7 separate regions of the Homo sapiens genome follow, and regions 1, 2, 3, 4, 5 and 6 are each linked to region 7. Evidence: fine-mapped expression QTL. A gene starts in region 7. Each other region holds a variant in brackets. All regions are shown on one strand. Distances are between the middles of the regions.

Region 1 (4,069 bases), 210 kb before region 7:
ACTCTCCTGAGGCCTGCATATTTAGCAGCATTCTGTGCAAGTAGCAGGTTCACTGTAATATTCATTGGTCAATTAAAAGGTACACCTAACATAGGAGCGATTACTAAACATTAACCATAGGAGGACGAGGGCCAGGTCATCTCCACTTTTATAGCCTTCATCAGCTCTAAGATGAAGATGCTTGCACACAGAAGACATCCAGTAAAAATCTAAGACACTGATTGAAGTAATCAATTATATGAAAGTTTTAAAATATACTCTATCAATCTTGCCAACACCTGACTGTGTTGATACAGGGAAGTCCCTTCCCCTCTGTGAGCCTTCGTTTTCTCAGCCATCTCTAAACTCCATTCCAGCTTTGACACTCAATACCCTCCCACTAGACATCCTTTTTTATATGTTAAACACACATACACACACACACACACACACACACACATTTAACTCTTCATATGCGTTAGCTCACATGTTGGGAGCTTGCTTGGCTCAGACCGCATTCCTTCCAGTTCTTGGCCAGCCTCATCCACACACCAGCAGTTCCGAAGATCAAAATGTGCCAAAGGAGTGCTGAAGTCTGAGTAGGACCCCGGGTATTGGCTGAGTTGGCCATTTAAGATCTGCCAGAAGAGGTAGGGCTCCAGGAGGATATTCTCCCTGGGCTGGGGCCGTTTCCCTTCCAGTGCTGCTAGTGGGACATCTTGCAGAGAAGGGTATTGTGACAGCACCGGGAAGACATCTTGCTGGCCAGCCTCATACAGACTTTGAATAAAGAGACTGAAGTTTCCGGAAGCTGCTTCTCTGTAGCTCATGATCTTCACTAGCAGCTTGGCAGGCGTCAGATCCTGGCCCTTGTTCTGAGCCTCCCATCGTTGGTACAACTCGAAGACCTGCTCAGGAGGCCCATTGCATTGCACTTGTCTCCACTGCCCATCGGTGCTGCACTGTGGGATGTAGGTGTCGGAAAGGGTGGGTAGCATGCTGGAGTTAGAGAGCAGGGCCTGCACCGTCCTGAGGAAAGCTTGCTCAGACTGTAATTGACAGGGCGTGGGGCCTGGGGAGGAACAATGAGCAGGTGTTTCAGTTTAAGAAATTTAACAAACTGGAAAGACCAAGATAAAACCACTTAACTGTCCAAACTCCGTCTAAAACCTTATATAGCCATAGAAATACCATGAAGCTTAAATTTGTAAATAATATCTAGATAGGCATTGCCCCATGACTAAATCAGCACCATTGACATCAGTTGGTGATCAGCACTGCAGAAATGTGGCAGTTCTTTAAGGCCAGACAAATCTCCCCATTTACTCCTAGGTCTGATTAACATTATCTAGGCATTCCTGGATAATTTTTAATATAAGCAGTCAATTTTGTCCTTAACTGAAGTGTAAGCATTGGCCAGGAGTGGATTTCTATTACTGTACTGCATTGGGTCAGGGCCTAAAGAGAGACTCAGGGAACCTACAGATTGAATACCCAACAGACTTACATTTCTTGGGCTTCCCTATTGCACTTCGAGTTCCAGGAATGGCCTGACCCTCAGCATCAACACAGTAGCACTCTGAGTTGAAGCACTGGACAGGCAGGAAATGTCCCTCACTAGTACAAGCAGGGACAAACAAGGTGGAGCCAGCAGGCTGGCTGCCCATGAGGCTTTGCATGCGAGCCCTTTGCTTTTCACAGTCTGTGGGGCACCTTGGCTGTCCACCTCTGACTCTTGAGCCTGGAAGCTCTTTGCCCCAGGAATTCACACACCAGCACTCTCCGGAAAAGCATTGGACATCCTCATAGCTTCCTTCTGTCGTGCATGATGGGACAAATAGCCTTTCAGGTGTCTGCTCACAGGTCTGGGAGCTGAGTACCGTTTCCATCACATCACCTAAATCTCTTGCCACATCTTCTGGCACAGAGATAGCATGTTGCAAGAAGAGAAGGAATTCTGGAAGCTCCAGGAGAGAAGCAAGGAATTTGAGGGCATTTTGGTTCTCTTGTAGGTTAATTTCAAAGCCAAAGCTGCCCACAGTTGGCTTATTCATAGTACCATCCTTCTTAGCAGCTTCAGGGGTTCCTGTGGAAGAATTTGAATCTAATCCCACAGAGAGTGGCTTGGCCAAATCTTCTT[G/C]TCTCCCTCCATTCAAGAAGCTTGCAAGACCAAGTTGCTGGAAAAATTGACTGAAGTTAAATGTGCCTCTTGTGCCAAGGGCTCCAGACAAGTTAAACTGGCCAACATTCACCAAAAATTTCCCTCCAAAAAGGTTTTGCTGGAGTCTCTTTGGGTTGGTGGTAAACTGAAGGGCAAGACGAGCCAGCCCTCGGGAGGGAAAAATTGCTCGGATGGCTTCTTTGAGAAGATTTTCTGAGACAGAAAACTGTTGGCTCTGTCCCTCCACCATTGGGCGGAGAAGCCCAGAGTCCACAAAGAGCTCCTTGATCGTGGGTGGGCAGGATGTGGCAAATCTGGCTACTCTTGGAGAGGCCCATCTTTTCTCTGGGGAAGAGAACAGGTCGTGCTGGCTGAAGTAGCCTGAGGTCCCAAAGTAGAGTCTGGACAAGGCCTGCTGCCTTTCGGAGGCACAAGATTGGCCTTCAGCTGCATGAGACAAAGTGAAATGGGAGAAAAGGTTTTAATGTCACAAGCAATCCTGAGACAGCTCCTCAGATCCTTTAGGTAGTAAGAAGCCAGAACATTCAATCAAGGACACCTACGTTTGAAACCACTTTCTTCTCTGTGTCATTTTATTTTTTCCTTTCCCCTGAGCTGCCTTTGTGGGGCCATTTTGGAAGTGTGACTTTTCCAGTTGGCATGACCACTCCACCAGCTCTCACTAGAGGTTCATCCCTTCTAAGGCAAGTCTTGAAAATACTGGCTCACTTTCTGAAAACCTGACCTCACTTGCCAATGGTACTCAGGTGAATAGTGTCCCCCACCACACACAGACATGATGTTCATGTCTACAGGGAACCTCAGAATGTGGTCTAGAAATAGGGTCTTTGCAGATGTCACCAAGTTAAGATGATGTCATACTGGATTAGGGTGGGCTCTAAATCCAATGACTGATGTCCTTATAAGAAGGTCATGTAAATAAACAAAGATGCACACAGGGAAGAAGGCTGTGTGAAGACACAGGCACAGATTGGAGGGAGGCAGCCACAAGCCAAAGACACCAGGGATTGCCAGCAACCACCAGAAACCAGGAAGGGGCAAGGAAGAATTCTGCCATAGAACCTTCAGGGAGAGCATGGCCCTGCCCACACCTTGATTTCAGACTTCTGGCCTCCAGAACTAGGAGGGAATAAATTTCTGTTGTTTTAAACCACCTGGTTTGTGGTGACTTGTTGTGGCAGCTCTAGGAGACTAGTAGACCAACACATTCCTATGCGTATTTAATGAAATGTTGTCTTCCAGCATTCTCTCGTTGGAATTCTCAATAGACTTCAATGCTTCACTATGTGATTTTAGTGTGGCTAATTCCTCCTTGGGAGTAGTCTTTTCTAGGCTAGCTATGGTCTCCTTGAGGGCAAGAACCATATCTGAAATGCTGTTAGTGGTTCCTATTATAAGAAATATTTTCCTATATTGTAATATATATTATAATATAGGAAATATAATACTTCCTATAATATAAAACAATAATGCCTACCCAGTGTACACACTTAGAACATTCTTCTGAGCTTCTTGACCTTTCCTAGAAATTACTAATTTAACAGTGATCAGCTCAGCCAACTCTTTGCATGGTCAAGTCATTCTATCTGAACATCCTAGGCTGACTGTAGCCACATTAAGAGAGAAAAAATGTAAAATTCAAACACCAAGGGGCTGTCTCAGTTACATAGGTGGATGTAAAGTAAGCTCCATTTTTCTCCATAAAATCATAACTCTTACCTTTTAACCACCACGCCCCCCCCCCAACTTTTAAAATATTTTTTTCCTCTTGATTCACATAAATGCCAAAAAGAAAGTCAGCCAATTTCCTTCTGTAACCAGGCAACAGAGAAAGAACTGGAAAATGTGGTGGGAGGGGAAAGATTGGCAGCATCAGAGCACGTAACATCCCTCAACGAGGCCATGGCC
Region 2 (4,069 bases), 78 kb after region 7:
CCTTCAGTTCTGCTCTGATCTTAGTTATTTCTCGCCTTCTGCTAGCTTTTGAATGCATTTGCTCTTGCTTCTCTAGTTCTTTTAATTGTGATGTTAGGGTGTCAATTTTAGATCTTCCTGCTTTCTCTTGTGGGCATTCAGTGCTATAAATTTCCCTCTACACACTGCTTTAAATGTGTCCCACAGATTCTGGTATGTTGTGTCTTTGTTCTCATTGGTTTCAAAGAACATCTTTATTTCTAGCAGAGATAATATTTAAAGAGATAATGGCTAACTGCAGGATTTATACTTAGGGTTTTTACATGTATACCCACTGCACAAACTGAAAACATTTTATATACCTTCAGTCTGGGAGATATTGTGCTATACTTTTTATGAATAGAAAAATAAAATTGGCTTGGCCCCTGCCCTGAAAGACTTTACCACCTACATTCATATATCTACAATTATGACTATTTAGCAAAAATTGTATATGCTCTGTGATAAACAGTTTAAACAACTCACTTTCTGCAATAACCCTGTAACCTGGGGATTTTTATTATCCAGATTATTTAATGAGGCTTGCTGAGGTTATATACATTTCCCAAGGTCATAATTTAATAAATAGATGTGTCATGTCATAGAAAACACTAGATTGGGGTCATTAGTTCTCTTCTTTCAGAATCCTGTAATAAATGTGATAAGTAGACACACCATTTAGGCTCTTGCTTTTATCCTTATACCAGTTAATAATAACGACAAAGACATAGCTACTATTTATTGAGCATTTACCATGTGCCACACACAGTGTTGAATACTTTGAACATCTTATGGAGTAGGGGTGATTATCATTTTGCAGAAGAGGAAATGAAATTCTGATGTTGCCTTAAATCATAGGGTATGTTTCCAAATGAACACAAACAATGCCTCATAATTTTCATCTACAGCCAGATTACTTTTGGATCATTAGCAGCTTAATATAGTAAAGTGCTTCACCTTTAAAATTTTGTTCCCAATATTTCTACTCTAAAATAAGGAAGTGGTTTAGGATATTTCATGAGTATCAGTATCTTAGCAGTCTTTATTCTCCTGTGAAATTCCCCCCCAACCCCACTAAGAAAATTGTTGAGGATCAAAAGTAGATACAATGAAATGTATCCTTTCTTCCATGATTCCTCATACCACTTTAATTGGAAGATAACCTGCATAGTTACCCAGCTTGTTGTCAACTGGGGACAAGGAAATACACATTATTTGCAGATAATTGTTTTCTTCAAGGTTATAGAGAAGCCTCTTTTCCAAATCATGGGCATCCTCTCTAAAACCTTGCCTGGCATCCTCCCAGACCAAGGGGTTGTCTTTTCTCTTTTCTGTGTTTCCTGGAAGTGAAATAAACAAATGTCACTTAAATAATGAAATCTATTGCTGCCAACTTCATACATTCTTGTCAAAATAAACATATAGTAGATACCAGATGAAGGTCAGGCCCTAGCTGCTCAGAAGGTAAGTCAGATCTCACCAGGAGCTCCCTGCACAGCTGACCTTGATCCAAGAATGGAATCAGCTTTGCGGGCACTGGAAACTCACAGGCCTCCCGTTG[C/T]GAGGTGAGGCTCCTAGGTATGAGGGAGAAGGCTCCTCAGGGCTACACACAGGGCAGGTGGTGCTCTCAAGAATGGCAGTGCTCGGTGGGCTCTGGGGAACAGCCACGTCTTGAAACAGACCCATCAACTGCATCTTTCTTGTATTCTTTATATCCATGAATCTGTATATGGTTATTTTAAAAATAAAATAAGAGGTGACCCAAGGCTAGCTCTCCACTGGTCAAGTGATGTCTCTGTCCCTGACTGCAAAGGCTCCAAACACAGTCTTTCTGTGACTTGGTTTCATAGCTTCTGCAGAACTGCAAAGTTGCCACTTAAAATGGGCTTTGTCCCTTTTTCCCATTGGCCAGTTGGGGTGGATGACAGGTCATTCTTCTAATTGCCAGCAATGAGGAGGAAAACATAAGACAACATCAGACAACAATTCAAGACAACTGGGAGAAGCCATAGACTGTGGCAATTCCCTGCACAGCTGTCCCTAGTCGGACAGATCTCATCACAGTCCCTTCGAGGCTGGGAACCAGGCTGATGCCCCCATCACTCTGGATCCTTACAGGGGGCAACAGGAGAGGGAGTGTCGCTCTTTGTTTTATTCCAGTGTTCCTGATATTGAAGCTTTCTCCTAGGCAGTGAGGCTAAAGTAGCCTAGGCAAGTCAGCCTGGTTATTTGCTCACTTTATCACCTACTGTGAACACCACTACTGTGAGTGGGAGGAGCCTCAGGTCCTGGGTACTTAGCCTGCAGGTCAGACAGAAGGGTTGAATTCAGGATGTCATTTTTTTCCTAAGGCACAAAACCCTCTCCAGCATGTTTAGAGACTGTCTCTAGCAAGATTGTAAAAGAAAATTTTATTTTCATTTTATATATTATTCTCAGTCTTAATGTTTGTCCTAACTTAATAAAATATTTTCAGTTTTAGACTGCAATGTGTGGATGATCTTCTATGGGGAACTGTCAGAAGAGTGACCTTCCAAGTAGAAAATAATTTTGAAGGAATCAGTTGATAGTTAGATTTGCTCTCTGGTTACTCAAGGCCACATAACTGCCTTATGTAACTGTCAGTGTTGATTTTACATATACATATCAGTAACTACATCTTTAAAAATTTTCCTCATAATATAAATATTAGCAAATTATTGGCCTGAGAATCAATGACATTTTGTATGCACCTGCCAATTGACGGGCCACATGAATTCATGGTCAGCATGGACTTCCTATCCTGCTATCTTGCTGATATCCAGCCTCAATAATTTAAAATAGCCAAATGAACCCATGATTTCCTTCTGCAGACCTGCTCCTCCCATAGTCATCCTTGTCTCAGAAAATGGCGCCATCAACTGATACACAGTTGTTCAAGTCAATGATTAGGAGGCATGCTTAACTACATCTTGCGGGTACCACTACTGAAATACATCCTGAATTCAGTTTCTTAACACCACCTCCCACCATCACCTCCCATCAAGCCAGTGTCCTCCCCCAACTGGACTACCTTGGACAGCCTTCTCACGGTTTGCCCTGCTCTATTCTTTCCCCTCTTTGATACTTTCTCCATAGAGAAGCCAGAATGCCCTTTTATTTACTTTTTCGTTTATAGTTGTGTTTTAAAATATTTTTTCTTTCCTATTATGAAATTATGACTGTAGAAATAGAACACAATGTAAAGAAAAAAATAACTCATGGTCCCACTATCTGGATAAACATTTTGTTTTGTTTCTTTTCAGTCTTTTGTCTGTGCTCAGGTGTAATTATTTCAACGTGGTTGTTATTTATTTTTTTTAAAGAAGTAAATTTTGCAAAATAAAAATATACATCTTGCAAATAATAGCTTTATTCCCGTGTTGAAACCTACCAATGGCTTTCCATGGCACTTGAAATATATTCAGACTTCTTGTTGTGGCCCAGAAGGCTGTGTACAAGGTAGTTTCTGCCTATGTTTCTGATACCTTCTTCCACTTTTCTCCTCTCATATTCTGGACACAGCTTTTTTTTTTTTTTTTTTTTTTTTTTTTTCCCCTCTGTCTCTCTCTCTTTCGGGAACACAAAAAATTCCAAAAAGGTTCTGAAACACAGGAAATTCCTATAAGGTTCTGGAATACAGAAGGTTCCAATAAGTTTCTGGAACCTTGTTCCCACCGGCAGGACTTTTGTGTTTTCTGTGCTTTTTCTGCCAAGAGCATTTCTGCCCCTTTCTCTGTTTACATCTGTATTAGTCTGTTTTCACACTGCTATAAATAAATACCCAAGACTGGGTAATTTATAAAGGAAAGAGGTTTAATTGACTCACAGTTCCACATAGCTGGGGAGACCTCCAGATCATGGTGGAAGGTGAAGGGGAAGCAAACGTGGACCGTGGCAGCAGGACAGTGTGTGAGGGAGCCAGAAAGACTACCATTTATCAAACCATCAGATCTCGTGAGAATTCACTCATTATCACAAGAACATCATGGGGGAAACCACCCCCATTCTTGGTACCAATTTCCTTTGTTAG
Region 3 (4,069 bases), 86 kb before region 7:
GAACCATAGGTTTGGAATTTAGTTCTGGCCATTGGCAATTTTGAAAGATTTATGCAAACTCTATAAACCTCTGTCCTGCATGTGGATAACAATTGCACTTATTTTCTAGGGCTACGTGAGGTTGAAACAAGATTACATATGTACAGTGTTTAGTGCAGTGCCTGGTTTGTAGAAAATGCTGACACACGTTGGATATGATCATTACACTTATAGGTTAAGAAAGCAAACTCGAGAGCCATCTCATCAGGGTTTGAATCCTAGCTCTACTTACTCATCACGTACTGGCTATGTGAATTTGGGCAACTCTCTAAACTCAGTTTGCTCTTCTGTAAAATGAGAATAATAATACAGCATCTCCCATGGAATTGATGTAACAATTAATGTGTTGATATGTGGAAAGACCTTAGAACAGTGCCTGGTACATAGTAAGCACTCCTTAAAGTTAGCAATTATTATGATCATTAATAATAAGGTTCTAATATGTGCCAGATCTTTAAAAAAAAAAAAAGTAGACCAAAGTCTTTCTGATGTGAGCTCTTCGGAAAAGTGGATTTGTGGGCACAGGAAGAGCAGAGGGTCTCGAATAAGTCAGAAAGATTTTCCTCCCTCATCTAGAAGAGATAAGCCAAGGCTGGAAGAGGGAGGATGAGGGATAAGAAAAACAGGAAAAGGAGAAGAAGAGAACTGTGAATTCCAGTAAAGAGAATACCAGACAGCTGTGAAGCAGAATAGCTGTCTGTTAAATTTAGGCAGATGTGACCAGGAGTAGCCTTGAGTAAATGTGACTATATTCTACAGGAGTCACTAAAGCAGCAGAGAGTCAGCAATGACAGATGGCTCAGGAAGTGACCTGTGTTAGGACTATGCATCTGCTATGTGTTGCTGTGTAACAAATTACCTCAAAACGTGGTGGCTTGAAATACCATTTGTCACTTCCCAGTTTGCGTGGGCCAGGGAGCTGGGCAGGGCTAGCCTGGGTTGTCTGCTTCTGGGTCTTTCCCAGTTCCAATCGAGCATTAGATGGGGCTGCAGTCAGCTCAAGGCTCAACTGGAGAAGGATCCACTTCCAAGCTCACACACTTGGTTTTTGGCTGGATTCCTGGCTGTTGGATGGAGCATCAGACCCTTACTGGCTTTTGAGACCACTCTTGATTCCTTGACACATGGGCTTCTCCACCATGGCAGCTTGCTTCATCAAAGCAGGCAAGCAAGAAAGTAATAGAGTCCAACAAGATGGAAGCCTCATCATGGTAGTGGAAACTCAGCACCTTTGCCTTACTTTATTTACAAGGAGCATGTCAGCAGCCTCAGTCTACACTCAAGGGATGGAGAATAGACATGAAGTTCCAGAGACAGAGAACTTTGAAATTAGATGGGCCCTCCTCCTGACAGTTCCTGCTGCCTAGAACATGTTCTACAGAAGATCCTGCCATGTGGCAGAACCTCAGGGGGAAAGGGAACCCCAGGAAAGGATGAGATTAACTTTTCCGCCAGCCGGACCAACTGGTGCCTCAGAAGAGAACTTGATTTAAGAAAACAAATAAAGAATACACCTTGCACATCTGTGCTGAGGACTCGATTATTTCTCATTTCTTTTATTTCATTTAATTCTTCAAGCCATCATATGACATATATATTTTTATGTTTATAATTGAGAAAACTGCAACTCAGAGGGGTAAGTCACAAATCTGAGGTCACACAGCTAGGATGGTAGACAGGTTGAATTTCTGTCTTGTGACCCCAGAATCCGCACTCTTTCCACTATGCAGTGGTACCTCAATGTTGCTGGAATATATATTTGAATGTACATTTCTTTTATCACTTACAGTAGTACA[G/A]ATGTGTATGAACCCATAAACACCATCAAGTCTTTGAGCTCTACTATAATGTAAATGTAAAATGCCATCTATAGAGTTTTTTGTGAAGTCCAACCTTCATTAGATAAACCTATTGCCTCTATAGAAATTTTCATAAGATCAAGCTCTTGCTATTTAATAGTATTCTGAATTTAATAGCATCAGTGCATTATCCTCAATAAATTTAAGTGATTTGGACAAAGATCACTACTCTGCACTACTTATAACTGAATGTGGCCATATGATGAGCAAGAAATGTCAGTTCGCTGAGTCTTTCTCACGTTCTCGCAGCCAAAGGTGACAAGTTAGCTCAGAAAACCACCCCTCCAGTGACCAGGGTGTAACCAGCTGGCCTGACACATGGGCTGCACATTCCCTGCTGCTGGCCCAGGAAACTCTCTGAAATCTTCAGCACACTCCTCAGTGTGAATGCCACTGATGTGAGCCCAACAGGAAGTGTGACCTCATTCTGCTTCTTTGCCTCTGGTTACGCAGGCTGTTTTCAAAAGAAAACAAGAGAAGTTGTAAGACTGACTTTCCCAAGAACTATACACTCATTTATACCAGGAAACAGACAAGAGAACAAGAGGCTGCCGAAGACAAAACTTCTCTGCAAGCACCTGTGCACAGCAATGTGCGTGGGCATCTGTGAGAAGAAGGTAGGGTGGGATTCCCTTTATTAAGAGACTTCTGCACCTGTTGACATTCAGACATTTTTCAGCCGAGGAACTGCTCAGTCCTCAATTTTTCCACTGTCAACCACAGGAAGCTTCGTATTTCAGTAATAATTTTGTCCTTTGTCAATTGGAAGAAGAGGCTGGGAACTCCCTTTGGAAGGAACACGTATGCACACATTATTTTTCAGAATAGATGTGTCGCTTTGATGGAACTGGCAGATTCTGTTTCTTGAAAAGTTTTAGATCTGTAACTGAAGGGCTTTTTTTTTTCCTACTGTTACTAATTTTCTATTGAATGTCAGTGTACTGCCTGTAGATTCTTCTAAGCACTTGTGAGATAGAGCAATAAGACCTTCTTTTGCTGCAGGATTTATAGGCTTAAAATTAAGCTTAATACTTGGGGAACACTAAAATAAGGTAATTTGGGCTGGGCATACCCGTACAATATTGATCAAAAATGAAAAGAACAAGTAACATACTAATATATTACATTACACTGGGATTATTTTATATCCCAAACAAATGAAATTTGTAAATGTGTGCTTTGATTTAGAAATCTTCCAAGGAAGGCCAGAAAGTTCTCCTGACATCTTTACAGGTCTCTATAAACCAGGTTTATATTTTCCTAATAGGGTTTATATATAATTTATTGAAATATTCAACTTGAAGCTGTAGAATTAGCCTGGTTTGATTGATTGAATTACAGCTACAAAAACAATCCATTACTAGTTCTCATGTTACAAAATGTGGCCATAAGTGGTGAATCAGAAAATAATTTACTCCTACCTTATAAAGCGATTAGGATAGTGATACTATATACAAAGTTTCATAGTCAACAGAAGTTGGTTCTATTTGATGAACAGTAAATGATCAAAGTTTGCATAATTTACATACTTTGATATGTTTTTAATTAGTAATTGAGAAATTAAATCATGTCTTCATGGGAACTAAGTTCTAAAATCTTCCCAATGGTATGCTATCTTTAGTGCAACATTACTTATGCTGTTTAGGAATGTCCAGGCTGATAAAAACTATTAAAATCACTCTCTGTGACTACCTGTCAATGGTTCAAGTTGTTGGGAAAAAGACAGACACCAATCTCCAAGCACTGTTTGAAACTTGATAATGAAGTTGACTTGTGTCAGATGATTAAAATACACGTAAGTTTGTTTTGGGGCTAAATGACTGTTAGAACCAGTCATTTTATTAAGATTTCTTAATCAAATACCTCACTTTCATTATTTTCTTTGGATTACAAATCAACCTTTTTAAGTCTAGATTTTCCAAATAAAGTGTGGTTCTTATTTACAGAAAAATGTTATTGAGATGCACTGAGTGAGGCAATGGAAAATGTTCAGTCATAGAGGCAGACACAACTTTAGAGGGGTTGTGTCTTCAGTCTGGTCTCCTACCTTCAATTCTGTATCTCTGTATTATTTCAGTAAACAAATCTGACTAGTGCAATTAGTAGATGCCATCTGTTTTGGCATAATTTTTCTATTTTTAATATATAGTCCACCTTTTTTTTAACATCTTTTG
Region 4 (4,069 bases), 160 kb before region 7:
ATGGAAAATCTAGTATGAACAGTATAACTTGTTTTAAAAGAACCTAAAGAGGAAAATTTCACCCATCCATAATCTTGCTGGCTTAAATCCAAATTTTCTTTTGGGCTTTCTCAAGTTCATTGGAATGTGGGTAAAACAGTTTCAAACACTGTTGCAGCATATAAACAGTATTAAATGGGCCGGGCACAGCGGCTCACACCTCTAGTCCCAGCACTTTGGGAGGCCGTGGTGAGAGGATCACTTTAAGTTAGGAGTTTGAAACCAGCCTGTACAACAAAGCAAGCCCTCATCTCTACAAAAGCAAAAATAATTTGCTAGGCATGATGACCTGTGCTGGTAGTCTTAGCTACTCAGGAGGCTGAGGCAAGAGGATTGCTTGAGCCAAGGAGTTTGAGGCTGCAATGAACTACGATCACACCAGTATTTCAGCCTAGGCAACAGAGCAAGATCTTGCCTCAATAAATAAATAAATAAAAATTAATTTGAAATTATATCATTGAAAGGAATTAGTGTATCTCACATATACTTGCATGGCAAAGATTACCAGTTTTATGGTGTTAGCAAGCAAATTTATCATATTCTCCACAAATCTAGTTTGAATAACTCCCAAGCATTAAACTTATGCTTAGCTGAGTTTTGGAAGTTGAGTAAAATGGATGACAGAGCTGAAAGTTATGTAAGAAGCAAATAAAAGTTCCCCCTTACGCTTGAATAGCCACCTAGACAATGGCTCCAACTGAGTGGCCACAAGAACAGCTGTTGCCTTCCAGCAACTACCCCTTAAATTGTCATTGCTATTTCCTGAGACAGCATTTTGCAAGTGTGGTTTCCTGATCAGCAACATTTATCATCACCGGGGAACTTGCTGGAACTCAGAAATTCTGAGGGTGAGGCCCAGAAATGTGTTTTAACACACTCTCTGGGCAGTTCTGACACATGCTAACATTGAGAATTTCTGGCCTAAGGCCTTATTAATTTTCCTTTTCTTTCTCCTGACTTAGTACTTGATCATAAGGGCAGGGCAGAGACTAAGAACAGAGAGTACACATCTATGGCTCTTTTCATGCTCTTTCAAGGGTTCTTGTTTCAGCACCACAACTAGCCTAGATATAACCCCTATTCTCCATCTTTCTATAGCAAGAGATAATCTTCAGATCTTGATGATTCACAGTAAGGATGTTCTTAATGTGATTATCAACCTCTGCTTCTCCATAGCATCACCTAGAAGTTGTATCTTGCCAGGATCCTTCCAGAAATCTCATTCAATTGTGCCTCATGGTAGGATCCATGATCAGTATAGTTTAGAAGAACCGCAGCAATGATTGTAAGGTTCACCGGGGGTGAAGAACCACTGAACCATGGGAAAAAGTAGACTTGTATTTGCTGGAAAAGGGTGGTGGTAACTTCTTTTTTAATCCCCTCCCATACCTCAAGGTTCTAAAAATAAAATCTCACAAGTGTCATGAGCTATAAAGGAAAGAAAATGCTTTCTCCATAACGAGCCAGGGAGGACTTAGACCTGGAAGCAAACGGTGCAAAAGCAAACATTTAACCTAGTATCCACCATCGAGGTCAGTCAGAAGAAAGAAAAAGGGAGGAAGTGAGCTCACTCACAAGGATCCTAGGTTGTACTTATGCTGAAGGCCCCGTCCCTTATTCCTCACTCTCTGACTCTGGTTGCTATTGCATTAGAGCTCTACTCTTATGCCACAGCCCTCAATGTCTACAGCTGGGATCTCTGTGCCTATTGCTTACAATATTGGAAGCAAGGTAAGAGTCTTCAACACTTTCCACTGTCAGGACTGGACCTGCAGGAAAGTCTAACAGATTTGAACTCCAGTGCTCCCTTCACTGCTGACGTGGCCTTCTGACTACCTAAGGGCGCTTAGTTCCTGCCTGTGTTTAAATCAGTTGTCTGACTACATCTCAGGACTTTGGTTACAGATGTATCTGACCAGGAATTCAAAGTATACTTTTAAGATTACCATAAATGTTTATTTAAGAAAGCATTATCTACGGAGTTAAGACAGACCTTGGTTAGAGTTTTAATTCTAACACTAGCTAAGCCGAAAAGCTACTTACCCTGTAAGTTTCGGCTTGTTTATATATCAAATGTGAATAATACCTACTCTGTCAGTTGATAGTGAAGAATATAAAAATATATGTGCAAAAACCTACAGAAGTATATACACTAGTAATATTTTCCTTATGACTCTCTTCCACCAATAAGTATAAAGCCAATTTAACTTTATATAAATTAAAAAGTAGCTCAAATTTCTCACATCAAGACTTTCATATTAGTTTAGCTAACAAGTTTTTAAATCGCATGCTCTTAACAGAGTACGTTTTATTCTCAGTTACACATTTAGGAATTGTAAGTCTTGTTTTAACCATCACATGGTTACACATACTTTCACCACTAAGATCAACGGATAGAATTGCCCTTGGGTACTGATAGGTTGTAGTTTTCTCCGTAAACATGCTTCGTGAAGCCAGAGAACTCCCAGAAGAT[C/T]GAGTTAGTGGAGAAGAGCACCTTTCCAAAAATTCGAGGGAACTGTCTTCATAGTCTGAATAGTCTGCAACATAAGATACAGAAAGAAATATTAATAAAGTGTCAGATAATTAAGGTCACTATAAAAATAACGAAAGTCATGTTTCAGGATACACCAAATAATCATGCTACCACTTTCGCTTCTCATCCATGAAAAGCTACATATGGATCTGATGAACTGGGTTTAGCAAGAACACTTGGGAAACAAATATACCCCAGACAATATATACATAGTAGGGGGCACCAGGTTCTAACTGGTACCTGTAAACTTTTGTGAAGTACTATAGAGGTGAAAAAGGATTATTTCACATTTTCTCTCCATTATAATCACAACTATGTCTGCAGTAAAATATGCAAGATGACAACACATGGACACATGGGGAAGAACAACACACACTGGGGCCTGTGGGAAGTGGGGGAGAGCATCAGCAAGAACAGCTAATGCGTGCTGGGCTTAACACCTAGGTGATGGGTTGATCTGTGCAGCAAACCACCATGGCACACATTTACCTGTGTAACAAACCTGCACATCCTGTACATGTACCCCAGAACTTATTCGGTTGGTGCAAAAGTAATTGAGGTACTTTTGTACCAACCTAATAAAAGTTGAAGAGGAAAAAAAAAAGATATGCAAGATGGAAATTCACCTTTTTTCTTCCCCACAATTCGTAAAGAGGTTCTCCTGATGTCTGGCACACCAATTATACAGTGATAATCTGATCAATAAATTTTTCAAGTAATAAATCTCTGAAGGTAATTAACTAGTCCTGGAAGAACTCTGTAAAAATTCTGTTTTTCTCAGTTTTGTAATGAGTCCCACAGATGTGTGCAAGGGGAGAGGCCATATGCAGCTTACTGGAGAGTTGAGGGTATAGTAAGGGAAGGAAAAAAGGAGGTGGGGGTGTGATTCCAGGCATGTGGGAAGGCTCTGAAGCTGAAGAGTGCATGCCACATTTGGCAAGCTGTAAGACTGGCTGGAACACAGTGAATAAGGGAGAAACAAAGCTAGAGTGACAGGAGCCAGATTAGCTTTTTTTAAAAAGTTTTACCCTAATGCAATAAAAAGTCATTCAATGCTTATGTGGAGGAGGAGCAAGATGTGACAGTTTCATTTCCAGAGGATCACTCTAGCTGTGGAATGGAGGATGGAATGCAGGAAGGCACACATAGAAGTGGGGGGACAGTTCAGAGGCTACAGCAGTAGTCCAGGAAAGAAATGTTGGTGGCTCAGAACTTGGGTGATGGCAAATAAGGGGAAGATTTTAAGGAAGATGGAGTGCTGTTATAGACTGGAGGCCGAGAGCTAAGACGGCATTATCAAGATTGATTTCCAGGTTTATGCGTGAGCAACAAGGCAACAAAAGTGGGTATGAGATGGGGCTGAAGAGTAAATGCAAGGTGGAGAAACCAGAGAAGAAACAGAAGTTTAGAAGAGGGCTCTGTAAGATGGGAAATCTTACACATTACCTACATGAACCTTAAGATGTGGGAAAGGGGGATGGCAGTGGTGAGAAATGC
Region 5 (4,069 bases), 36 kb before region 7:
CTGCAGTGAGCTGTGATTGTGCCCATGCCACTGCACTTCAGCCTGGGCTACAGAGAGAGAATTTGTCTTAAAAACAAAAAGAAAAAGAAAAAAGAAAAAAGAAAAAGGAGTTAATGACATTTGTTTAAAACAATTATTGATTTCTAAAGTGGCACCACCTAAGTTACCAAATCTTTATTAAGAATTTACAATATGTTCTATACGGTATGGGGTACCAAGTTTAGCTCAGTTGCTGTTAATGAAGTGTCTACCATGGGTTAGACACAGTCACTAGGTACCAGGGTGTGAATGCCCCAGCATGTGGCTGGCTTTGAGATTTTATCATCTCATTAGAGTAAAGGACTTGTAAGGGGCAAGGTGAAGTTGCCTTTTAATATGGTAAGTGCAAATATCAGGTTAGTACAGGAGCCAGGGGGAGCACAAGGAGGTCAGTTTCCCAGACTAAGAGGAGTGGGGAGTATGTTCAGGGAGGGCCTCCTGGAAGAGCCAATATCCGATCTGCAGGGGTTATATCACCTGCTGTTTTCTCAGAACTTCCCATTGTTCTGAGCTCATTGTTTGTTCTCTCCCAAAAGAAATTACATCAGGACAATATTTCTATCCTGAACAAACACTTTTATCTTCTGACTCATTTATGGAAGGAGATCCTTTCTTTGATTATTTGTGTACATACTTTGACTTGTTCTTCTCTTGTTCCCAACTCCATTTTTTCCTGTTTCCTGCCCACCAGCCTCATATACACACACATTTGCATTTAAGACCTGTGAAAACAAGGACTATTGACTTCATTTTTGTATCTACAACCAAAGCCTTGAAAATAGTATGTACTCTGTACATATTCATTAAATTTAATGTATTTACTGCATCATTTCTTGAAGTACTTCCTTGAAAGCCAAGAGCTCTGCGTGTATATTAAAGATTTTGCAACCCTCTCCTTCTTATATAAACATACCGAGAAACTAATAAACCAAAGATATGGTTATTAATATCGAGAATCAAGAATGACTCATAAGTCTCCTCTAACAATCAATGATGAGAATCTAAGGAACTGAATTCAGTTCAACAAATATTAATGCAGCACCCTCCCCCCAACACACACACCCATCCTGCACTGTGCAAGTTAGATTAGATTAGGTGCCTCTTTAGCACCTCACACGGCTCACATCATATCCCTTTTCATAACATAATGAAATTCTTAGTCAACTGCTTTCCTGATTAAATTTAAAGCCTGTGAAGATAGGGACTATCTGTCTTGTCCACCACTGGCCTGAGTGTCCCTTGCAAATGAAGGTCAGCACAGGTATCTCATGTTAGTAATGATGTGTTAGCATCAGCGGTACACGTTTTGCACACTTATGATTTCATAGTAACAAAATGGGTCACATCTGTTCTCTCTTAAATGAAGGAATGTATGTTCGTATACTTAATGAATGAGTGAATAAACTTTAGGGAATAAAAATATGGGGAAAATCCACCTGTTACCCTACAGGCTGTTCTACGGGGCAGGAGAGAGCAATTTTCTGGAAGGTGTATTCTTTTGAGCCATTTTCTTTACCAAGTTTTTAATCTTCTTGAGGATCATGATTACCTTTCACTTAAAGTGCAATTAAAATACTGATATAATACAGAAAAATGCCATAAGGGCAGGTGGGAAGAGGAAACCATAGGAAATATTAGTTAACTAAGTACCACGCTGGGCTGAGGGGTCAAAACCTCTATAGTCTTTCAGACAAAAAGGAGAGCACTAAGAACTGCTGGGATAAAAGCAAAAACGAAAAGTACCCTTAGTTGAGGCTGCACTCTTCCTAGTTGTGATAATTCAGGCCCGTTGTGGGTATGGGTGTGGGTGTGTGCTTATATATGCGCAAATGGGTATGCAGTGATTAGATACTGCATTTCCTGTGCATGGGGATGAATTATGCATTTCTTTTCTTATTTCTCCAATCTAGGTTTGTCAAAATTTGACAACCATTTAGGAATGCCTT[C/T]GATGAATGTCCTCCATCTGAATATCTGGAAATTGTCCAACTTGCAGTCTACTTGGAATCAAGTGTTTTATTGGAAGGGAGTAAGCGAGTAATGGAGAAAAAGCCATTTTAGTTTGACTATGTGATTTTAAAATGATCTCAGTTTTTCCATCAAAATTATAATATGCTCATGAAAATAATATTAATTTGCCTTCCCTTTGCAAACACCGGCAGTTGAAAGGAAAAGGACGGGGAATGTGATGGAAAAGAGACCGCCTGGAATAAATGTCCCCCTATGATTCTTTAAGGCAGTGGTTCTCGAGCTTGAATTTTCATTAGGAAATTCTGTGAGGAGCTTGTAACCAGATTTCTGGGTCTGCCACATGCACCTATCTCTTGCTGAATTGCTTTAATAGAATAATGAGAGCAAGTTTGTCTAACTAATACCAACCTGACAACTTGAATAACAATAAATGCAATTTGTACATAAAATATAATGCTGCAAAAGTTTGTCATTCACCTCAGTGGAGTGACTTGATATTAGGTGGTAACCGTAGATGATGGTTAATATGAAAATGGACAGGAAAGAAGCATTTTCTGAAAGTTATATTCTTTTGAACCACGTTCTAAACCAAGTTTTTAATCTTCTTGGGGCTCGTAATTACCTTTCACTTTAATGTCACTTAAAGATATAACACAGAAAAATGCCTTGAGGGCAAAATATAGGCAAAACACCAATGCGCTTTCAAATGCATGAAAATGGTGCAGTTGTACCCTTGAGCCTTGACTCAAGGGCTGTAGATGTTCCCTTTCCACCCCCCACACTTGGTGCGTGTTCACAAAGCAAATATGGCCTGTAATTCAAATTTGTTCTATGTGATACTCTCTGAGTAAAAACTCATACATGCAGAAAATTGTCTTTGCTCGAAATGATAATGCCAAAATATAACTTTATATATAATTTGCATTTAGTACATTTTTGGTTAAAAAATAAACTAATAAATAAGTGAAGTCATCAGCAAATTTATATTTGTGTGTGTGTATATATATATGTATATATATATTTTTTTGAGAAATCATGGCAGAACATCATTCATTGAAGACTGTATTATTTCCCTATTGCTGCCTTAACAAATTACCCTAAACCAAGTGGCTTACGGCAACACAAAGTTATTGTTTTACAGTTCTGGAGCTCAGAAGTCTAAAATAAAGGTCAGCAGAGTTATTTTCCCTCTGGAGGCTTTAGGGAAAAATCTATTTCCTTGCCTTTTTTAGCTTCCAGTGGCTGTCTGTATTCCTTGGCTTGTGGCCCCCTCCTCCACCTCCAAAGCACACCACTCTGATTTCTTACTTCCATCATTACATCACCTTCTCCTCTTCTGCAGTAAAATCTCCCTCTACCTCCCTCTTTAAAGGACACTTGAGACTACATTTAGGATCCACTCTGATAATCCAAGATAAAATCTTTGACTTAATGACACCTTCAAGGCCCCTATTTTCATATAAGGTAACATTGATGGGTTCCTATGATTAGAACCTGGCTATTTTGGGGGACCATTAGTAAGCTTACCACAGTTGTATTTGAAATAGCCTCGTGTAATAATTTAGTAGGTCTGGGATATGTCCCATGCCTTTGCCATTTTTACAAGTAGGTTAAGTGATCACAAAGTGATCCACAATCCACGTGCATGAATGCTTTGAAGTGGGATTTAAAATGAATTTAATGGAGAACTAAATGCATATGGAGCCTTTCATTTAATACACTATTAGGAGAACTTCCATTGAGAATTTCTACATTTCCTTTGTCTATGTGTAACACACATTTTTCTACAGAGTCATTTGATTTAAATGATAATGTTTTTCAAAGTAAGATACTGAAATAGTACTAACTGTTTACGTGCATATAATGCTTCATTGTTGACAAGGACATTTTCTCCCCGGCTGTATAAGCTTACTATGGCTACAGTAACAAGTTACCACAGATTTGGTGGCTTAAAACAATGCAAATTTATTATCTTACAGTTTTGGGGGTCAGTCCAAAATGAGCCTTACAAGGGTAAAACCTAGAGACTGCTTGCATTCCCTGGCCCCTGGCCCCCTCCTCC
Region 6 (4,069 bases), 42 kb before region 7:
TTATGTTAGAGCTCATTTTAGAATAACAGTTTTAAAATGCATATAAAGAGATTTCCAAAGGATATTCACCAGATTTTATTAATAACTTCTTCCATATGGTGGGATTTTTCTGATGATATTTTCTTTTCCTTTTTGTATTTATTCGTAATCTCTTTCAAATGATTCACATTTTGAAAATAAAAACAATAAAAATACTATTCTTTTTTGAAATAAATCTACTCAGTGACATCATCACCCATCATATTGGCAAAAATTCAAATGCTTGGTCACACTTTTTTGACAAGGTTGTGAAATAGCAGACATGCTCCATCATTGCTGTGAAATTTTTAACAATTTATTCTTAAAATCCCCAGGTAGGGGGGCTGGGCACGGTGGCTCACGCCTGTAGTCCCAGCACTTTGGGAGGTTGCGGCAGATGGATCACGAAGTCAGGAGATGGAGGCCATCCTGGCTAACACGGTGAAACCCCGTTTCTACTAAAAATATAAAAAATTAGCCAGGCGTGGTGGTGGGCACCTGTAGTCCCAGCTACTCGGGAGGCTGAGGCAGGAGAATGGTGTGAACCCGGGAGGTGGATCTTGCAGTGAGCCGAGATTGTGCCACTGCACTCCAGGCTGGGCAACAGAGCGAGACTCTGTCTCAAAAAAAAAAAAAAAAAGAGAAAATCCCCAGGTAGGGAGATTCCATAATGTCGACCAAGTTTAAAGTTACATATCTCCTTTGACCTGGCCAGGCCTTTTCAAATAATTTATTGTGTGAAATGACATATGTAAAATGCTATTCATTGCATTTTAAAAAATGCTATTCATTGTATTTTTAAACAGATTTTAAAAATTATTTTTAAGTGCACCTTTAGTGGTTTTAGTATATTTACAAAATTGTGCAACCATCACCACTCTAATTCTATAACAATTGCATCACTGAAAAAAGAAACCCTCTACCCATTAGCAGTTACTCTCCTTTCCTTCCTCTTCCACCTCCTGAAAACCACTAATGTACTTTCTGTCTCTGTGAATTTGTCTATTCTGGACATTTCCTATAGAGTTATACAATATGTGGACTTCTGTGTCTGGTATGACTTATGTAGCATAATGTTTTCAGAGTTCATCCATGTTGTAGCATGTATCAGTACTTCATCCTTTTCTATGGAAGAATAATATTCCATTGCATAGATATACTGCATTTTGTTTATCCATTCGTCAGTTGATGGGCATTTGAGTTTTTCCCCATTTGACCATTATGAATAATGTTGCTATGAACACTGGTGCACAAGTTTTGTATGGACATACAGTTTCATTTTTCTTGGTTAAATATCTAGGAATGGAGTTTCTGGGCATATAGTAAGTCCATATTTAATATTTTTAGAAACTGCTGAAACGTTTTCCAATAGGACTGCACCATCTTACACTCCCACCCCCACCAGCAATGTATGAGGAATCCAAATTTTCCTCATCCTCAACATTTGTTATTGTCTGTCTTTTTGACTAGAGCCATCCTGGTGGGTGTGGTGTGATATCTCACTGTGGTTTTGATTTGCATTTCCCTGATGGATAATGATGTTGACCATCTTTCCATGCACTTATTGGATGTTTGTTTGTGTATCTGTTTTACAGAAATGTCTATTCAAGTACTCTGACACTTTTTAAACCAGGCTGTTTGCTTTTTGTTGTTAAGTTAAAATAATTCTTTATATATTCTGCATATTAACCCCTTCTCAGATATGTGATTTGCAAATGTTTTTCCTATTCTGTGGTTTGCCTTTTCACTCTGTCGAATGTATTCTTTATGTGCAGAAGTTTTAAATTTTGATGTAGCCCAACTTCTCTACTTTTTTTCTTTTTTTGTGGTCTGTGCTTTTGGTGTCACATTCAATAAATCATTGCCAAATCCAATGTCATGAAGTTTCTCACCCATCTTTTGTTGTGTTTTATAGTTTTAGCTCTTACATTTAGGTTTTTAATTCATTTTGAGTTAACCTTTGTATATGGCATAAAGTAATGCTTCAACTTCATTCTTTTGCGTATAGTGTAGTAAGTTTTGAAGTGGAAAAGCATGAGCCTTCCAACTTTGTTTTCCTTCCTCAAGATTGTTTTAGCTATTTTGGGTCCCTTGCACATCATTTTGGTAATAGCAAAAATAGAAACAACCCAAATGTCATAAATGGAGGACTGAATAAATAAATTCACACCACAGAACAATGTGCAGTTGTGAAGTGCCATAGAGATAGATGTAGTAATAAAGTTAGAGATGGGGTGGGAAAGACAGAGAGACAGAGAGAGAGAGGATAATTTATATCTTTCAAGTTATAAATTATTCATAACT[A/G]TAAAGTACAAGCATTGAATACAGTTGTCCCTCAATACCGAAGGGGGTTTGATTCTAGAGCTTCCCTCAGATACCAAAATCCTTGAATACTAAAGCCCCTTATATAAGATGATGTAGTATTTGCATATACCGTATGTATATCCTCCCATATAGTTTAAATCATCTCTAGATTACTTATGTAGATGGGTTATATTACTTATGAAATTTATTACAGGATAAAAAGAGGCATCACTGTTATTAAATGAAATGCTTGTTTTTGAAAGGGGGTGTTAGGTCTGACTGGTCTGAGTAGCTTTTTTACAGACAAAATATGCTATGGAATATACAGTGTGGGTGATCTAGATCTCCATCTCTTCACTGCCATGACTCTGATTCAGAAATATATTGAGCCTTTACAAGCAAGGTGTGGAGTGGTGAGGGGCGTGTGAGCAAACAAATGTGGGGTCTGGTCACTGCTAGGTTGCGATAGCACCCGGGCCTAGCCACAACTTTGCTCCGAAATCAGAGCGGGCAACAGGAGCAGGGAGAGGCCAGGGGCAGGAGCAGGCGCTTCCAAGCCTGCAGGCACAGGGGGGCTTCCAAGGCCCCCAAGAGTGCAGGGATGCCTGGGTTCAGAGCCATGGCTGAGCGGCTGCAGCTGCACCTGGGAGGGCGGGGCCCCCTCCAGTTCCGGGCTCCCTCCTGTTCTCGGCTCCCTCGGGCTCTGCGAAGCCCACAACCCTGGCCAGGCCTCCCCTGCTGCAGCTGGCGTCTTTGCAGCAGCCACTCCAGATGGGCTGCTGCTGCCATCGCTTATGGGACTTCAGTTTTTCCCACCATTTCTGTCTTCCCTTAATTTCTTGTTTTGTCAGAACAAATTATTTCTCTCACGGAATATTTTGCTTGTATATGATTAATACAGAAAACTATTCACCTCCTCTAAGAAAATATACTAACCCACAGCAATAACAAATGTGCTATTCTACAATTAGCTCATTCCTTTTTGTTGCTGAATCATATTCCATTGTATGGATGTACCACAGTTTGTTTATACATTCACCTATTGAAGGGTGTCTTGGTTGCTTCCAGTTTTTGACCACTTTGAATAAAGCTTCTACAAAGAATCATATGCAGATTTTTGTACAGACACAGAATTCACCTCAGTTGAATTAATACCAAGGGGTGCAACTGTTGGGTTATATGGTAAGTCTAAGTTTAAATTTGTAAGCAAGTGAAGCTGTTGGGTTATATGGTAAGTCTATGTTTAACTTTGTAAGCAAGGGCCAAACTATCTTCCAACTGTTTGCACACTTTTCATTCTTTTTTTTTTTTTTTTTTTTTTTTTTGAGACGGAGTCTTGCTCTGTCGCCCAGGCTGGAGTGCAGTGGCGTGACCTCGGCTCACTGCAAGCTCCGCCTCCCGGGTTCACGCCATTCTCCTGCCTCAGCCTTCCAAGTAGCTGGGACTACAGGCGCCCGCCACCACGCCCGGCTATTTTTTTTTTTGCATTTTTAGTGGAGACAGGGTTTCACCGTGTTAGCCAGGACGGTCTCAATCTCCTGACCTCGTGATCCGCCCGCCTCGGCCTCCCAAAGTGCTGGGATTACAGGCATGAGCACCGCGCCCTGCTGCACTCTTTTCATTCTTAACTGCAATGAATGAGAGTTTCTGTTGCTCTGCATCCTCCCAGCATTTTGTATTGCCAGTTGTTTGGGTTTTAGCCATTCTACTAGGTATGCAGTGATATCTCGCTGTTTTAATTTGCATT
Region 7 (4,069 bases):
TGCCTGCTGCTAATAGCATTTCATCTCCTTTGTGAGTAATCAGACATCAGTGCTCAGTGTCACGTGTCAGTGTCAGCGTGTCAGTGGCACGACCACAGATGTTTACCCATATTGTCATCATCATGTGGAAATAGAGAAGTTTCAGCTTTCAAAGGTGAAGTCATCTGTCTGATGCCACACAGTAATAAATCTGTGTATTTAATCTATGTTTCCAATGCCAGAGCTAATACTGTTCACCTCACACTAACCTGCTTTCAGAAAAATAATAGTGGATGTCAGGTAAGTTTATAGTTTGAGTGCCTTTTGGGAGGCCTCCTTGGAAATCCAAATATTCAGGGAAATAGTGCCTGAAATCCCACTCTTCCAGTTCAGTTCCTTTGGCCTGGCATTTAAGGCCCCCATTACCCCCGATCTAATCTCTCATTCTTACTGTTCGAAGATCCCTTCTATCTAGCTCTCTTTATTGCCAAACTGATGTTTCTGCTTCCCCCCATCACCTCACTCTGTTAGACTTTCCTGCCTCTCTGTCCAAGTTCATGACCTTGTCTCTACCTGGCAAACTCTAATAATTGCCAGCTGTAAATGCTTAACAGCTATTCGCTAGAAAAATTAATTTCTTTGCACTCAGCATTGCTCTAGGAATCTTCTTTTAAAATGCAAACATAATACACACATCAAGATAAGAAGCACGCACTCCATACTGTTTAAAACGACTGGGATGGGAGAAGGTTTTACCTTTTACATATTGCCCCCCTCCTTTTTCTGCAAATGGAGTAAAGAATAATAATTACTTTCATAATAATGGTACCTTTTAAAGATTCTTGGGAAGCTAACGCATTAAAGTGCTAACACTAAGATCTGAGGGTGAATGAGCTTGCTGATGTGCTTCCTAGTTTAGAATGGGAGAAGGCGCGTTGCACACTTTTGGAGAAGGGTCTGGGGAAACGTGAGGGGAGTGTGGGGCTGTAGGAGATATACTTCCTACATTTTACAATTAAGAGAGTGGAGAATAGGGAAATTGATGGAGGGGGTAATGGGTGGCGTTTCTGGAAAGCTTGTTAGCCGGAAACGAGTGTTGGAGAGTGACTTTAAAAAGCTGGAATATGACAACGACAACGAATCTTTATAGTGAGCCTGTTGTTTTCATAGTGTCTTTCATTCACTCAAATTATCTAATTAAAGCTTCACAGTGATCCTCTTAGGTTATTTCTCATCTTACAGATGTGCAAACTGAGGAGAAGGAAGTGTAAGGTCACGCCGCTGGTAGAGTTGGGGGCCAAATCCAGATCTGTTGGCTCTGGAAGCTGTAAATCAAACACAAAAAGGAAAAAGTCAAAGGCGGTCTGGAAGGCAAGCCTGGAAGGCACAGAAAAGAGAAGCGTCCTCATACTTTGTTCACTCTAAACCATTGATTCAGGGAGAGGGAAGCAGTCTGTGGCAAGTCGGAAGTGCGACGAGGACGAAGACTGGGTTTGGGTTGGGGAACCCCTGTCTGCTGAGCCCCTTCACTGCGGTCTCCTCTGCTTGCTCCGCGGAGCTCAGGAAACGCGGCTTGTTTTGGTCCCGCGCGGCCGCCGTAGAGTCCCCGTTGCCATGGCTCCTGAATTCCGACGGGGACGCGCTGAGGAGCAGGGGTGAAGGGTGAAAAGCGTCATTCGAGGTCCGGGTCCGGCTTGCGGGGTCAGCGAACTGGAGAGGCGCCATGGGCTGGAGTAAGCCCCCCTCCACCTTCCGTCCTCGATCGTTCCCCTTGTGGAAGTAGTCCCGGGTCTCGTGGGATCCTCGCCGCCCGCTCCCGCCCTGCGCTGTCGGTTCCCCCGCGCCTGGGCGGACCCTAACCCCACCCGGCCCTCCGCACCGCAGCCCCGGCTGCACCAGGTCCTCTGCAGACTGGCCGGACAGCCTGGCCTTTTCCAGCTCAGGTTCCTAATCTGTAAAATGGGCGGGGCCGTGGGAAGGGGAGGAAGAGGCAGAAAGGCACTGGACTCCAGGAAAGGGGTCGGGGAACGTGCAGGGGTTTTGGCGCCAGACACACCACGTTCCGGCCAAGTGGCTCCTTACTGGCTGTGAACGTGGGCCAGTCACTGTCTCCAAGCCGCAATCTTCGGACTCATTCCGGAAGGCAGTGTAGCCTAATGGTGGAGGGTTCCGACTCTGGAGCCAGGGTTGAAGTCCTCCCTCTTCCTGTGACTTTGAGCGAGTGACTTCACCCCTTGGGCCTCAGCTTCTTCATCTCCAAAATAATGGCAATCATACTACTGTTTTAGACACAGTAAGTGTTATAAACGTGTTTTTGTTTGTTTGTTTGAGACAAGAGTTTTGCTCTGTCGCCCAGGCTGGAGTGCAGCGGCGCGATCTCGGCCCACTGCAGCCTCCGCCTCCCGGGTTCAAGCAATTCTCCTGCCTCAGCCACCTGAGTAGCTGGGATTACAGCGTGCACCACCACGCCAGGCTAATTTTTGTATTCTTAGTAGAGACGGGGTTTTGCCATGTTGGCCAGGCTGGTCTCGAACTCCTGACCTCAGGTGATCCGCCCGCCTCGGCCTCTCAAAGTGCTGCGATTACAGGCGTGAGCCACTGCGCCCGGTAGTAAACGTGTTTCTTTAAGAATATACTAACAAACTGCAAGGTGATGCGGGTAAGTTATTTATATTGTATGAACCATTTTGATATCGACAACGTTTTTGAGCTCCCCATATGGCAGTTTTGTACAGCTCTACCTAATTGATCACTTATCATTGTAAAAATGTCATAATTAACTTTTTTTAAATCAAGAGACTGCTCCAGATGATGGGCTTTCTGCCCTGGAAGACCTGACAGCCTGCAAGTGGGAGAGGTGGGGGTCGGGGGGGAGTGATTTGTAAATGTTGAAACTCCTTTCCTAAATCAGCTACTGATATTTCTTCCTCTCTTCTCAGGGCTGTCTCCCCATCCCCTGGTCTCACCCTAGTTGGTTTTTTTCTTCTTCTCCTTCTCCTCCTCCTCCTTCTCCTCCTCCTTCTCCTCCTCCTCCTTCTCCTCCTCCTCCTTCTCCTTCTCCTCCTCCTCTTCCTCCTCCTTCTCCTCCTCCTCCTCCTCCTCCTGCTCCTCCTCCTCCTGCTCCTCCTCCTCCTGCTCCTCCTCCTCCTGCTCCTCCTCCTCCTGCTCCTTCTGCTCCTGCTCCTCCTGCTCCTTCTCCTCCTTCTCCTTCTCCTTCTTCTTCGCTTTTTTATGTCGGGAATTTTCCTTTGCCCTCTTTCTCTGAGTCGTGCCCACTTTGATTTGTTAAATCATTAACTTGTCAGACTTGCATCGGAGTGTCTACCTTGAATCAGGTATTGAATGCAGGATACAGTGAGGAAGGAGGCAGATGTGGGCCTACCCTCCTAGGGAGGGAGAAGACAAACAGAAGTATAGTGGTTACAGCCAGGAGAGAGAGGGGTGCCTGTGCCCTGAGGGTGTGGGTAGGGGACCTAACCCCAAGGTGGGTGGAGGCTTCTCTGAGGAAGCAGTGCTGTCTGGAAAGGAAACAGGAAAGCTCAGTGAATTGCCCAGAGGTGAGAAAGAGCAGGGCTTCTTGGTGGCTAATTGTCACTGACAGGAACTGGTGTGAGACAGAAAGAAGGAGTGGAGAGCAAAGAGATAAGGAAGGCCTGACAGGTAGGCAGGGATCCGCTCATACAGGTTTTGTACTTAGGATTTAGAAATTTATCAAAAGAGCCACAGAGAAACCAAAAGGTTTTGTTCATGGGCATAGCTTGGCCCTATAGGAGTTCGAGTGGGAGATAGTAGGCTGAACTGAGGTCGTGGCAACAGGACAGATGACAAGCACTCCTCCAATGAGTAGCTCTGATGTGCCAGGCTTGGTTAACATGCTTTACCTGCATTCTCTTGTTTGATCTTCCCAGCAGCCTTTTAAGGCAGGGAAGGATTACTGACATCTCTATTTCTTTGGTGAGGCACAGAGAGTAAATCACACAGTAACTATCAGGGCTGGGAACAGAACCCACGAAGATTTCCTCTGGGTCCTGCATTACACCGCACTGCCGCCCACAGGACTGAGGCGAGTGGACAGATTTGAAAGATGTGG

Which allele goes with the higher level. Positions count from the first base shown, and alleles are read on the strand shown. Sizes are in standard deviations (SD) of each study's normalised expression. Not every link is listed here.
For the expression in gastroesophageal junction of the gene that starts at base 1,651 in region 7, C is the low allele of the variant in region 1 and G is the other (large effect, 0.89 SD a copy in GTEx).

Evidence for each region. PIP is the estimated chance that this variant, and not a neighbour inherited with it, causes the effect.
Region 1: its variant is fine-mapped to the expression of DNAAF11 in gastroesophageal junction (GTEx, PIP above 0.99).
Region 2: its variant is fine-mapped to the expression of DNAAF11 in whole blood (INTERVAL, PIP above 0.99).
Region 3: its variant is fine-mapped to the expression of DNAAF11 in whole blood (INTERVAL, PIP above 0.99).
Region 4: its variant is fine-mapped to the expression of DNAAF11 in whole blood (INTERVAL, PIP above 0.99).
Region 5: its variant is fine-mapped to the expression of DNAAF11 in whole blood (TOPMed, PIP above 0.99).
Region 6: its variant is fine-mapped to the expression of DNAAF11 in whole blood (INTERVAL, PIP above 0.99).

What each region holds. Positions count from the first base shown.
Region 1 is chr8:132,884,966-132,889,034 of GRCh38, reverse strand. TG (thyroglobulin) reads right to left here. Exons shown (of 48, transcript NM_003235.5): 9 at 1,487-2,587; 10 at 467-1,051. Among named protein-coding and RNA genes, the nearest start is that of TG, 20 kb to the right of the region's middle. The variant G/C (reference allele first, on the strand shown) is at 2,120.
Region 2 is chr8:132,594,871-132,598,939 of GRCh38, reverse strand. The region is part of intron 10 of DNAAF11 (dynein axonemal assembly factor 11); the gene reads left to right. Among named protein-coding and RNA genes, the nearest start is that of HPYR1, 35 kb to the right of the region's middle. The variant C/T (reference allele first, on the strand shown) is at 1,580.
Region 3 is chr8:132,758,919-132,762,987 of GRCh38, reverse strand. TMEM71 (transmembrane protein 71) reads left to right here and starts at 2,406. Exons shown (of 10, transcript NM_001382403.1): 1 at 2,406-2,512. The variant G/A (reference allele first, on the strand shown) is at 1,836.
Region 4 is chr8:132,830,742-132,834,810 of GRCh38, reverse strand. PHF20L1 (PHD finger protein 20 like 1) reads right to left here. Exons shown (of 21, transcript NM_016018.5): 15 at 2,412-2,576. Among named protein-coding and RNA genes, the nearest start is that of TG, 34 kb to the left of the region's middle. The variant C/T (reference allele first, on the strand shown) is at 2,513.
Region 5 is chr8:132,708,863-132,712,931 of GRCh38, reverse strand. It overlaps TMEM71 (transmembrane protein 71), which reads left to right. Exons shown (of 10, transcript NM_001382403.1): 10 at 1,950-2,991. The coding sequence ends at 1,965. Among named protein-coding and RNA genes, the nearest start is that of DNAAF11, 35 kb to the right of the region's middle. The variant C/T (reference allele first, on the strand shown) is at 1,986.
Region 6 is chr8:132,714,988-132,719,056 of GRCh38, reverse strand. The region is part of intron 7 of TMEM71 (transmembrane protein 71); the gene reads left to right. Among named protein-coding and RNA genes, the nearest start is that of DNAAF11, 41 kb to the right of the region's middle. The variant A/G (reference allele first, on the strand shown) is at 2,323.
Region 7 is chr8:132,673,127-132,677,195 of GRCh38, reverse strand. It overlaps DNAAF11 (dynein axonemal assembly factor 11), which reads left to right and starts at 1,651. Exons shown (of 12, transcript NM_012472.6): 1 at 1,651-1,712. The coding sequence starts at 1,703. LOC105375767 (a long non-coding RNA gene) reads right to left here and starts at 1,566. Exons shown (of 2, transcript XR_928665.4): 1 at 1,391-1,566; 2 at 1,138-1,304.